3 separate regions of the Homo sapiens genome follow, and all the other regions are linked to region 2. Evidence: fine-mapped expression QTL. A gene starts in region 2. Each other region holds a variant in brackets. All regions are shown on one strand. Distances are from middle to middle.

Region 1 (4,245 bases), 450 kb after region 2:
TTAATTCGACTTTTTGTTAAATTGTAGTTATTTATATATTCTGGATATTAATCCCTTATCAGATATATAATTTACAAGTATTTTCTCCCATTCTGTAGGTTGCCTTACTTTTTTGATAATGTCCTTTGATGCACAAATATTTTTAATTTTGATGAAGTCCAATTTATGTTTTATCTTTTGTTATTTATGCTTTTGGTGTCTTGTCTAAGAACCCTTTGCCAAATTAAAGGTCATGAAGTACACTCCTATGTTTCTTCTAAAAGTCTGATGGTTTGAGTTCTTATGTTTAGATATGTCACTGATCCATTTTGAGTAAATTTTTGTATATGGTGAGAGTTAGGGGTCCAGCTTCACTCTTTTGCTTGTGGAAATCCAGTTATTCCAGCATCATCTGTTGAAAAGATTTTTCTTTCCCCATTGAACAAACTTGGAAACCTTGTCACACATCAATTGGTCACAGGTGTATGGCTTAGACAACTCCTGAGTTGTAAAAGGAAAGAGAGAAACAGAGATGGTAACTATGGTATGTTTGTTACTGAGGGGAATGACCCAGAAGAGGGGAAAACTTGATGATGCAGGAGAGGAGAGAACTGCTTGTCTTAGCAGGCAAGAGGTGATGGAGTTTGGAAGACGAATACAAGTGGAAGGTCTGCCCTTGGAGAGTTTATCTATAAGAACTGGCAGGAAGGCCAGTATGTCACTGCAGATGCTAACAGGTAGGTGGGCATGGTAGCAAATTACAGAAATGAATCCATCTACTCAACAAATACTTACTGGTCACCTACACCTTACTTTGTGCCAGATGTTGTTCTAAGGATACAATTGGTATTTTCAGCCATTTAAACTTTAGCCATTCTAGTGGGTATCTAATGGTATCTCATTGTGATTTTAATTTGCATTTCCATTTTTTTCTTTTTTGCCATTCATCTTCTCTGATGAAGTATCTGTTCCGTTCTGTTCTGAGGGTTCTCTGGTGAACCCTCATACATTGCTGGTGGGAATGTAAAATGGTGCAGCCACTGTGGAAAACAGTTTGGCAGTTCCTCAAAGAGCAAAACACAATTACTATATGATCCAGCAATTCTTCTTTTAGGCATATAATGAAAAGAACTGAAGGTATGAACTTGAACAGATACTTATATGACAATATTTATTGCAGCATTATTCGTAAGAGCCAAAAGGTGGAAACACCCCAAGTGTCCATTGAAAACTGAATGGATAAATATGCTATACGCAGGCAATGGAATATTTAGCCATAAAAGGAGTCTAGTTCTGATACATGCTACAACATGCATGGACCTTAAAAATGTTCTGCAAAGTGAAGTATGCAGACAGTGAATCAAAACACAGGTCCCTGTGCTCATGGAGCTACCACATTTAAGGATAAGAAAGAAATATCAAACACAAAGGACTATGGTAGGCTTGAGGATCTGAAAGTTGAACTGGACTGGGGATGTTTGGGCAATATCATCAAATTTACATTTAAAATGGCTGCTAAGGGGCCAGTCAGTGGTTATTGTAGAAAATCTGAATGTTTATCTCCCAGGAATAATTTTGGACAGTAAGCAACATTAGTATAAGTTTTCAACATTTAAAGTCAATAGATCAACTACTGCAGATAAAACTGAAGACAAGTCTTCTGTAAACTTGCAATAAAGCAATGGATTAAATTCTGGGATTTAAATCTTCTGAATAGTGTTTCCTCTCTCAAAGTGATCCATAAGTAACGTGTTTATATGTCAGTCTATTTTAGAATCCGGAATAAGTAGAAAGTCAAATAAAATTTATTATCACTGATGACTTTTTATGGAAACTCTATACCCTCAAAAATTTAAAATCTTAATTAAAAGTACAGTGAAGACTTAATTGTAGAAGCAAATGAAGGTAAGAATTGCCGTATCAGTGAACTTAGTATTTGTCTCATGGTTCTCCTACCATTTTTGTACCCTAAAGGTTCACACTTAGATGACATACCACCCTCAGAGCAGTGGAGACTTGATGGGCTACTTAATCTAGACCTAATCCACCTTGAAAATCTGCTCCCACTCATCACTCAGAAGCCACTTCCACCTATCCCTAAATTCTCAGAAGAATCCTGAGTCATGAGAGAAATTCTAAAGAGCCAGTGAAGGATCTTTATAGGCTCAAAAGGAGTCCTGGGGAGATACTCATTCTGTTTCTGAACTTCTTTGAGCATATCAGATCAGAAATATCTAGGCCTTAATGAAGTCATGTCTTTCGCAGTGACATGGATGGATCACCCTAAGTGAAACAATTCAGAAACAGAAAATCAAATATCACATGTTCACTCATAAGTGAAAGCTAAACAGTGGGTAAACATGGACATACAAAGGGAAAGAACAGACTCCCGGGACTCCAAAAGGGAGAGGGTAGTAGGAGGGTGAAAGGTGGAAAATTACCTATTGACTATAATGGCCACTACTAAGGTGATGGGTACACTAGAAGCCATTATGCAACATGTCC[A/G]TGTAACACACCTGCACATGTACCCCTGGAATCTACAAAAATGAACATTTAAAAATGTAAACATTAAGCCTCCAAGGAATAAACTAAAGACAAATGGCCTCTACTCAAGGTTATCTCTCAAACTGTAGTGAAAAACAGAAAGGAAAAATTCCAGGTTCAAACAAAAAGCTGATCACAGGTGACTTTTTAAGTGGTATTATGAACTGTTCTTGTGGCTCAAGGTCTTACCTGGGTGCCTGTTTTAAGGAAATTCATAAAGTAAGACTGGAAAAGAGTAAGAAAACTTTTAAAATGTCATGGAATCACTGTAAAATATGCCACTATTTGGCATTAGCCAAACAATGTACTCATGATACTTAATATTTTGTAAATTTCTATAGTATAGTTTAAATGGAAAAAAAAGTTCTAATTGTTGTTTTGCTTCCTGGACTCTTGCTTTTTGGAAAGTGTCTCACTGGAGATCAAAATGTACTCCTGCTGGGAGAATAAGTATTTTAGTGACCAAGTTCTATGTGGCTTCAGTCAAAGCATCTCAATGTGTGGTGTGTGTATCTACATAGAGATAGATATACTATTATCAATTTCTCAGACTATATTTTGAAATTGCCAGTTTCAAGCCTAGAATTACTCAAATGTCAAATTGAGTCTTCCGATTTAAGTATTTTAGGCTCTTATAATCAGCATGAGAAATAAACTTGTATACAATTCCTCCAACTTCCAACAAAGGGATTCCTATAGAAAATCTTTTTGTCTGCTATAAATTGTAATATAAAATCTAAAAATTCACCACATTCCAGCCTCAAACACGTGTTTGGAAAAAAAAATTATGTACATATAGAAGATAGACTTTGTTACTTTGTTCTAATATATTTTTAAAATATCATTATAAGAGCAGAGTTCTGGAGCAGAAATATGCAATTCAACTATTGATTATGCCTAAGGCACAGGGAAATGAATTAAGCTAAGTGGAATTATGGATGGTGGAAAACAAGATGAAACAGGGTGACAGAGAGTAATAAATACAGATAATTTTTTTCATGGATCTTACAAACTACTAAAAATGTGTAATTCTCACCTCAAATATGCTTTAGTCTAAGCTATGAAACACATTTAAATGGAGTAAGTAAAAGAAGATTAACAGGATGTGAAGGGATTGTATAAATGTGAAAGGCTAGTAAGGCTGAAACTTTTTCTCCTCCAAATATTTCTGACATTTGTTGTATGCTTAAGAAAGCAGCATATATTTCTTCTAATAAGCTTTACACAAGTAGTACTTATGGATATATCCTTTCAAACAGAAACCAAAGCCAAATAAAAGTAAAATTTTTCCTAATTTTTCTTATCAGAAAAGTTAACAATCCCCTATCTATATCTTAAATAAAATGATACAATTTCCAGCACCTACTAATGGCTCTAAGATGTTCATAAAGTTAATTCTGCTTAATATTGGGATGAAACCTCTCTCCCAGCGTAGCAGGATAAGTAAGGATCTATCCACCATGATTCAGAGAGCCCAAGGACAGTCTTCAAGTCTGTATTTCACCATACCACTCTCCTTATGTCCCTAGTACATTTTTTTAAAGAATTATGTTTTAGCTTCATAAGTGAACTACCCACCAACCAGAAATGCTTTTCCTCAACTTCTTTAATCTATAAAAATTTCATGCACACAACCTGATAAAATACATCAGAGTCAAGACATCCGATTTAAGTATTTTAGGCATATTTAATAAATAACTTCAGTAAATAGCACTGTAAAAA
Region 2 (4,245 bases):
TTCTAGAAAATAATCTTCTTGGATTTTGATCATAAACGCATTTAATGTGTAGATAAATATTGATAGACATAGACTTAAAAAGTTGACATTTTAGCAATATTGGGTCTTCTAATCCATTAATATGGTACATAATCTCCATTAATTTGGATCTTCTTTAATTTCTCTCAGTAATGTTATATAGTTTTCATTGTAGATGTCTGGAAATTGTATGTTGTCTGGGAATACAGCTTTATTTCTTTCATTGAAATCATTATGCCTTTATTTCTTTTTCTTGCCTTATTGCACTTGTTAAGACCTCCAGTATAATACTGAATAGACATAGTGAGAGCAAATATCCTTGCCTCCTTCCAATCTTAAGGAAAAATCAATTTTTCACTATTGAAAATGATGTTAGCTGGAGATAGTTCACAGATGTCCTTCATCAGATGAAAAAGTTCCTCTCTATTCATAAGTATTGTTTGTTTTCAAAGAATAATCGATTCATGTCACAGACTCAAACCACTGCAAAATTTGATATTACATGCTTAAATTTATTAACTTTTTAAACTTCTTTGCTTTACATTGTCAGCACTGATAACTTTTCTGTGGTTCTTAGCTGTGCTATTAAGGCCACAGATATGAATGGTGAACTTTTGGCTAGACTCATGCTGAGAGTTTTGCTAATGTATGCTAACTTGACAACTTGACCGTTAAGATTTTACCAACAAAATTAGAAATGACTAGATGTAATCTATTTTCAGGGTTCTAGAAAATAACTGAAATTGGCTTTGTCAAATCTAAGGTCTTCTTTAATCTCTCCTGACTTTTAGTTCTATCTTTCCTATCCCTTTCATTTACAACGGTTTTGGGAGATTTGGAATTTAGCAATTCAATTCTTTCTAAACTACTTTCTTAATTTTATTGCCAACTTTAAAAAATAAAAAATTGTTGGTGGAAAGCTTAATAAATCTGATCATTTATATGTACATTTTCTTTGTTACTGACATAAAACACACATACTGAAAAGTGCATAAATAAGCATATGCCTTCATGTTTTTTTTTTTTTTTCTTTTTTAGATGGAGTCTCGCTCTGTTGCCCAGGCTGGAGCGCAATGGCACAATCTCGGCTCACTGCAACCTCCACCTCCTGGGTTCAAGTGATTCTCCTGCCTCAGCCTCCTAAGTAGCTGGGATTACAGGCACCCGCCATCACGCCCGGCTAATTTTTGTATTTTTAGTAGAGATGGGGTTTCACCATGTTGGCCAGGCTAGTCTCGAACTCCTGACCTCGAGTGATGCACTGCCTCAGGCTCCCAAAGTGCTGGGATTACAGGTGCGAGCCACCACGCCCAGCCTGCCTTCATGAATTTTTGAACACACCCAGAAAGAGCAGAAGACAGAACATTTCTGGTACACCAGAAGATGTGTTGTTTTCCCTTTCCAGGCAACCCCAATGGTAACTCCTAGTGGTGTGATGGAGCTAGCCTACACCAGCTCTTGGGAGCTGATAAATTTTCAGGAATCTCTTGTGAGGCATTCAGATTTTACTGGAAAATTAGAAATAATTAGATATAATGAATTTTCAGAGTTTTAGAAAATAGTTGAAATCTACTAAGTCAAATCTAAGGTCTCCTTTAAACCTCCTGGTTTTTAGTTTTAGTTCCATCTTTCCTATTCCTTTCATTTACACACAGGCATTATTAACAGTTAAATTGTATCAATTAATATTTTAAAATATTAAAAACATTTTACTTCGTTCAACTTAAAGACAAAATTAATATATTTCTTGAGGTCAAATTATCTAAAAAACTCTACCTTGTAAAATTGCATCTTAAAGCAGTGCGTGGAAACTGATGGCAAGAAACCACTTAAGTGTCACAACTCTGCTTCAAGTTAATTCCTAGTCCATTTGATTTTGTTTTGCTTTTAAGATCACGAAGCTGGTGTACACTTCCGTGCGAGCTTAGAGTGGTAATGAACTCCACAATACACTGAAAAGAGCTTGAGGAGACAGCAGATGAAGGACTGGGGCTCTGGTTTTGTAGCTGAAGCCCAGGTTCTCAAAGGTCCTACCAGGCCTGTACTTTATTTCTCCTCCGCGGGCCTCTAGGCCAAATGCCTGGATGAATCTGCGCTCAGGGGGCGTCCTGGAATTACACTTGGGAGAGAATAAGAAAGGAGGAGGCCGATGTGCCCATGGACATTATTAACCTTCCGGCAAATCCCCACAGCCGCCAAACTGCGTCTCCTCTTCCGCTCTCGGCGCGCAGCTCACGCTCGCAGCGTCAGCGACGCCGGCGGCGCCAAGGCGTCGTGGCGTCGGGCGCCTGGGACGTGGCTTCAACGGCCCCATCCGGCGCCGGCGGCGGGTGCCCGGCGGTCTTTGCTGCCGCCCGGGGGCGCAGAGGCCGGGCCTTTTCTTTCAGCACAAACGTCAGTTTGTAAAAGGGAGGTGCTGGAGTCTGAGGAGTTTTCAGGCTTCCGTCTCGAAGGAAGTCTGGCAGGCTCGGAATTGTCATCTTCCTCAGGCAAATAGTTTTTCACCTTAGAGCCAGCAAGGCCAAACCGCCCAGTCACCCGACTTCCCACAGTCTCAGCAGGTACACAGGGCGGGGAGCCTCGGGAGCGGCTCCCTTAGCAGGACCTGAGGGTTTCGGGAGAGTCCTGGCTTTGCACTTAGTTTTCCCGCTGCCTGGCTGCCTCCGTGGCGGTTGTGCTGCTTTTTATGCAGGATGTAGGATCGAAGGCAAATCATCCTTTCCCTACGTCCCCTGCCAACCCCTGCCGCTCTCCTCTATTTTGTACACTTTATCATTAAAGGATTTGAAATGAATGTAAGTTAATCCTTGAAGGATGAAACCAGAAAACATTTGTCGTGGTGGCGGAAAGGGACGGATGCACTTGGGCGAAGTAATGCTGACATCCACTTCCTAGCATTGTTAGGAGGGATAAATGAATTAAATATGTAAAGTCCTTAAATATTTGCTTGCTAATACGAGTATTCATTGCGTGTGACTATTTTTGTATTTATGTGAACTTCATCGGAGCATTTGTCAGGTTCTTTTTTTTTGCACCAAGTGAGCGTTGCCTGCCTGCCTGCCTGCCTGCCTCCCTCCCTCCCTCCCTTCCTTCCTTCCCCTCTTCCCTTCCTCCCTCCCTCCCTCCCTCCCTCCCTCCCTCACACTTTTTTGGGGAGAGAGGACACAATGCAATCCATAACAGCATATACACTTGTTCTTTTTTCCATCGAACTTTCCTCTTGACCATGTTTTCTTCTAGTAATACTGTATTTCTTTACTCCCTTTTATAGTAAAATTTCTCTACAGTGCTTATATTCAATTCATTGTTCCTACTTCCTCTCTTTTGAACGGTAAGTCAGATATTTACCTCGATCATTCTACTGAAATTGTTGCCGTTCTTCAGGTTACAAATGACCTACCTCCATGTTGCCAAATCCAGTGTCAGCTTAGTCTTCATTTTACTTGACTCAGCATTTGACGTAGTTCATCACTCGGTCCTTGGTGATATTTTCTTTTCCTTGCTTTCTATGTATATATAACCTTTTGGTTTTACTTATTGGCTCATTGGCCACTCTTCTTACGTCCTGTTTCCTGGTCCTGATGGTTTTGATGGAATTTTTGATGTTTGCTTGGACCTGAAGGTTTTGATGGAGTTTCTTTGGCAATGTAATTTATTCAGAATTCTTTTGAGGCTTTTCAATTTTGTAAATTTAATCTTGGTTTCTGCATCATTTTGCTTGTATCATTAATTTTTACTGAAAGCATCGTGTCACAATCGGCATGAGAAAAATGTAAAAGGGAGCAGGGCGCACAGTGGCTCAGGCGTGTAATCCCAGCACTTTGGGAGGCTGAGGTGGGAGGATCACCTGAGGTCAGAAGTTCGAGACCAGCTTGGCCAACGTGGTGAAACCCTGTCACTATTAAAAATACAAAAATTAGCCGGACGTGGCAGTGGGCACCTGTAATCCCAGCTACTTGGGAGGCTGAGGCAGGAGAATCGCTTGAACCTGGGAGGCAAAGTTTGCAGTGAGCAAGATTGTGCCATTGTACTCCAGCCTGGGCGACAAGAGCGAAACTCTGTCTCAAAAAAACGAAAAATGTAAAAGGGAATATTTTGCAGGGGCTTTGGTTCAAGTTCTATAATGTGTTTATTTACTATTATCATCAGTAATTTCCAAGAGAGCATTGTGTTCTTCCTTCAAATGGATTTTTAGTGACAAGTTATTTTTGCAAAGTCATATTTGAT
Region 3 (4,245 bases), 630 kb after region 2:
TTAATTTCCTACTTCAGTGATTCTCTGCCAAGTCTTTTATACTCCTCTCAAGCTCTGTGTTTGATTAGAATACTTTCATTCCTTGAACTCAGACACTTCTTGGAGGGGGATCTTGCTGATTAGTTTGATGTCATGTGGCCCTGTCAACATTCCTTCATCTTTGCTGTTTTTTTTTTTTTTTTTTTTTTTTTAAATACCAAATGAAGGTGCACTTAGGTACGGAACTCTCTCTCTGGGTGGTGCTCCTTCCCTGGTCTCCTGTAGGGTTGGACCGGAACGCTCTCGGTGTTCACTTCTAGGGTCAGAACACATCTGGAGCAGGATTATGAAGCAGCATTTCCCCTGCAATCTGTCAAACTCGCCAACAACTAGAGAAATCACCCTGATTCCTGAGAGAGATTACCAGGAAGCCTTTTTCAGGGGCAGACGGGGTTATTTTGCCAGTGTAGCAGAAAAAAGGTAAATAACAGGTGTAAACCAAAAATAAAATTCTAAGCCTCCAGAATGACTAAATGGATCTCCCTCTTGGCCGAGGCATTCCAAAGTAAACCTGAAAAACTAGTTCAAGCTGTGATGGGAAGAGGGGCTTGTTGGATAGACCTCCTTATGCCCTCCTCCCTTTGGAATTCAGGCTCAACTGACCAGGGTTAACATTAAAACAGAGATCTTAGGACTGACAAAGCAGACTCTTTGTAGTGGGAAGACACCAAATTCCAACCTGACTCTAGTATAGCATCATAGGACAGATGGCAGGCCCTGAAAGACACTGAAGTATTTTACTCCAAAATAGATTTCTTTGACATCTTTTTAAATGGCCCTGAAAAACTGTCTTTTGTGAGGAAATCTACATTCTGTAGAGAATCCTCTTCCCTTTCTAGGTCTTTACCTCATCTGGGAGATATTTAACTAAGGGTTCGGCAAGTTTTTAGGTCTGATAAAAGACATTTGTTCTCTATTCTCTCTACAGCCTAGAGGCTTCATTTGCATAATGAAATCCCTGGTCTTCACAACCCCTTATCTTAACCTAGAAGACTTTCCTTTCTGTTGATTCCAGGTCTTTGGATAATAACTTAACGCTTTCAACTGATTGGCAATCAGAACATTTTTGAATCCACTATGACCTGGAAGCCATACCCACTCTCCCAGCCTGTCCCCCACAACTGCTTCCAGACCCAACCAATGTACACCTTACATGTATTAATTGATGTCTGCCTACAACTTCTGTCTCTCTAAAAGATATAAAATTAAGCTGTAACCCAACCACCTTGGGCACATGTTCTCAGGACCTCTTGGGGCTGTGTCACGGGCCTTGGTCACTCATATCTGACTCAGAATAAAGCTTCTGAAATATGTCACAGAGTTTAACTCTTTCCATTGACACAGGTGAGTTTGTGTTGCCCACTGCTTGTTATGTGTTACAGTAAGAACGAGATGATCCATTTGCAGAGCTTTGCCTTTTCTGTGGCCAGGTGGGCAGCTGAAGAGACTTGACATGTAGGCCAGTCATTCCATCTGTTCCCAACTCTTTCAGCCTCCTTCTGGGATCCTGTTTTTCCTGCCATCACCCAGCTGAACCCAGACTTTATTCTTTTATAACACACCCCCAGCACACAAATTTATGCACCTACACCAAATTCACTTGCCAGCCACCTCGTTCAATAGCTGTGAATATTTCTGTAGCCTCTTTCTTTTGTGAACTGCAAATAATGACCAGCCTAGTCTCTATGGTTATATTTAGGGGGAAAAGATTCTCTGTAGTAGATTTCTTTTATTAATTAATGTTCTATTTTTTCCATTCACTGATACCCTACATTTTATAGCTTCTAGGAAAATTATACTTGGTACAGTACTTTGACCCTAAATGTGTCCATGTGCAGGAAATAGTACAGTAATTGACACCCAGTTAGTGTTTAGTTAATCGTAGTTCTAAATTATGTGTCTAATGAAGAAAATTTGGAAATCACTTTGCTTAAGAATAAGGAAGTTTTGCAGGGCAAAT[G/A]TATTAGTCTGTTCTCACGCTACTAATAAAGACATACTGGAGACTGTGTAATTTATAAAAAAAGAGGTTTAATGAACTCATGGTTCCTTATGGCTGGGGAGGCCTCACAATCATGGCGGAAGATGAAGGAAGAGCAAAGGGACTTCTTACATGGCAGCAGGCAACAGAGCTTGTGCAGGAGAACTCTTGTTTATAAAACCATCAGATCTCGTGAGACTTCACTCCCTATCATGAGAACAGCATGAGGGTAACCACACCCATGATTAAATTACCTCCCACTGGGTCCCTGCCACGACAAGTGGGGATTATGGGAACTACAATTCAAGATGAGATTTGGGTGAGGACACAGCCAAACCATATTAGCAAACATTTGAGCAAATGTGCTATCAACATTAAGAAGACCAACATCTAGGAGGCAGCACAGAGCTAATGCAAGAGCATTACACTTGGAGTCAGGATTGCTAAGAGCTCCTTGCAGATCTGCTACTGGGTGACTTGCAGATCTGCTACTGGGTAACTTCTCTGGGCCTCAGTTTCCTCATGTGTAAAACCAAGAGGACTGGCAGAAACACTAGCGGAGAGCCCTTCCGGCTCTAAGTCTGTGACACTTTGATGGCTCTTGTTCCTGGATGAAGGGACACCACTGGGAGAAATTTCTTCCTCCATAAGTCAACAAATTGGAATTAAAGTGCCTATGATTCCCTCCGTGAAGTTCGGTGCTGCCAACGATCACGATTCTCATGAACTCAATAAATTGTGCAATATTCTGGAAACAGCTGCCTCTCAGGGGTGGTGTTTAAGTCATCCAACTGGGAAAACAGAGGACACAAAATAATCGTAAAATGGTTTCAGGGAGACATAAGACTGACAGAAATAGAATCCCTGCTCTTTCTGGAATCGAACACTGCTGTTGCACCACAATTTCTGTGAGTTGGACCTAAAAGGAATGTCTTTACTTTTCAGGACTTGCTTTTTGTTCCTTAAAGAGCCAGGGAAATATGAAAGCAATCGATTTCTTCAGAATTCCAAAAGAAAGATATTGCTGTTTGCAAGACAAAGAAAAAAATTAAATGGAGATGGCAGCCTGTGTGTGCTGTTCCCTTCAGCAACGAGCAAACTGTGACCCAATTTGCAAGCCCTTGCAGGTTTGCAGGGTAGACCCTGGCGCTATCTCTTCCCATTAGTTTCTCTGGCAGTAGGACTGGCTGGGAGAAATTGGCTCAGTAGTACATCAGTAGTTATATTACACAGCAGCTGTGGAAAATTATTAAACTAACAGAGAGACAAATGGCTTGGGAGAGAATAAAGTTAGCAAGTCTGGAAACCCCCATTACAGTACATTATGTTGAGTTCCTTCTCCCTCTAGATTAAGACCCTGGTTCCTAAATGAGAATCCAAATTACAGCTAAACTTACTTTACTTACCTGTCTTCTTTTAAATTTGTTTCTCATTTTTCTTTGGCCAGTTAGAGATCATAGAACACTGTCCCATCTTATGCCATTTCTTTCCTCTTTGGTCTTGGACCATCTCTTCCTCTGTGCTGTCACTGGAGATATACAATTACACACGTTCAATCTCATGTGTTCCTCATACACACACACACTCATGTGGATACCCTGATATTCACTCTGCACACACATGCTCACATGCAAACACACCCTGTCTCACACACACTCATGGATGTGCACACACACTTTTGCACAATTTTTTTTTTTGAGATGGAGTCTTGCTCTGTTGCCCAGGCTGGAGTGCAGTGGCAGGATCTCGGCTCACTGCAACCTCCACCTCTCAGGTTCAAGTGATTCTCCTGTCTGAGCCTCCCTAGTAGCTGGGATTATAGGCTCGAGCCACCACGCCCAACTAATTTTTGTATTTTTAGTAGAGACAGGGTTTCACCATGTTGGCCAGGCTGGTCTTGAACTCCTGACCTCAAGTGATCCGCCTACCTCGGCCTCCCAAAATGCTGGGATTATAGGCATGAGCCACTGTGCCCGGTACATTTGCACACATTTTTGAGACTCCAGTGTCTGGGCTCTGGTTGAAAGGCCACTCTGAATTTTTTTCCACTCTCTGTGGTAGTTGGAACTATGTCTACTCCCAAGAGTTCAGACCACTCTGTTGAGAGTTCAGCATGTTTGTAAATGTAATTGGTTTATTAAACGGTATGAATTTAGTGAGAAACACACAAGAAGTATTTATTTTTCCTCCAAATGCAACCTTACAATATGTTCTGTTGAATCTGCATT

Alleles and levels. Positions count from the first base shown, and alleles are read on the strand shown. Sizes are in standard deviations (SD) of each study's normalised expression. Not every link is listed here.
For the expression in minor salivary gland of the gene that starts at base 2,322 in region 2, A is the low allele of the variant in region 1 and G is the other (moderate effect, 0.54 SD a copy in GTEx).

Evidence for each region. PIP is the estimated chance that this variant, and not a neighbour inherited with it, causes the effect. A credible set is the group of variants that fine-mapping cannot tell apart.
Region 1: its variant is the best candidate, but not a certain one, in a credible set for the expression of CCDC7 in minor salivary gland (GTEx, PIP 0.74).
Region 3: its variant is the best candidate, but not a certain one, in a credible set for the expression of CCDC7 in thyroid (GTEx, PIP 0.69).

Annotation. Positions count from the first base shown.
Region 1 is chr10:32,896,207-32,900,451 of GRCh38, forward strand. ITGB1 (integrin subunit beta 1) reads right to left here. Exons shown (of 16, transcript NM_002211.4): 16 at 4,112-4,245. Among named protein-coding and RNA genes, the nearest start is that of SNORA86, 3.1 kb to the right of the region's middle. The variant A/G (reference allele first, on the strand shown) is at 2,485.
Region 2 is chr10:32,443,819-32,448,063 of GRCh38, forward strand. It overlaps CCDC7 (coiled-coil domain containing 7), which reads left to right and starts at 2,322. Exons shown (of 44, transcript NM_001395015.1): 1 at 2,322-2,579. It overlaps LOC101929431 (a long non-coding RNA gene), which reads right to left and starts at 2,238. Exons shown (of 3, transcript NR_120660.1): 1 at 1,795-2,238. RefSeq lists an enhancer at 1,873-2,192 and a silencer at 2,263-2,492.
Region 3 is chr10:33,071,439-33,075,683 of GRCh38, forward strand. The region is part of intron 2 of ITGB1-DT (ITGB1 divergent transcript); the gene reads left to right. IATPR (ITGB1 adjacent tumor promoting lncRNA) reads right to left here. Exons shown (of 3, transcript NR_160030.1): 2 at 3,424-3,545; 3 at 2,588-2,808. Among named protein-coding and RNA genes, the nearest start is that of IATPR, 43 kb to the right of the region's middle. The variant G/A (reference allele first, on the strand shown) is at 2,000.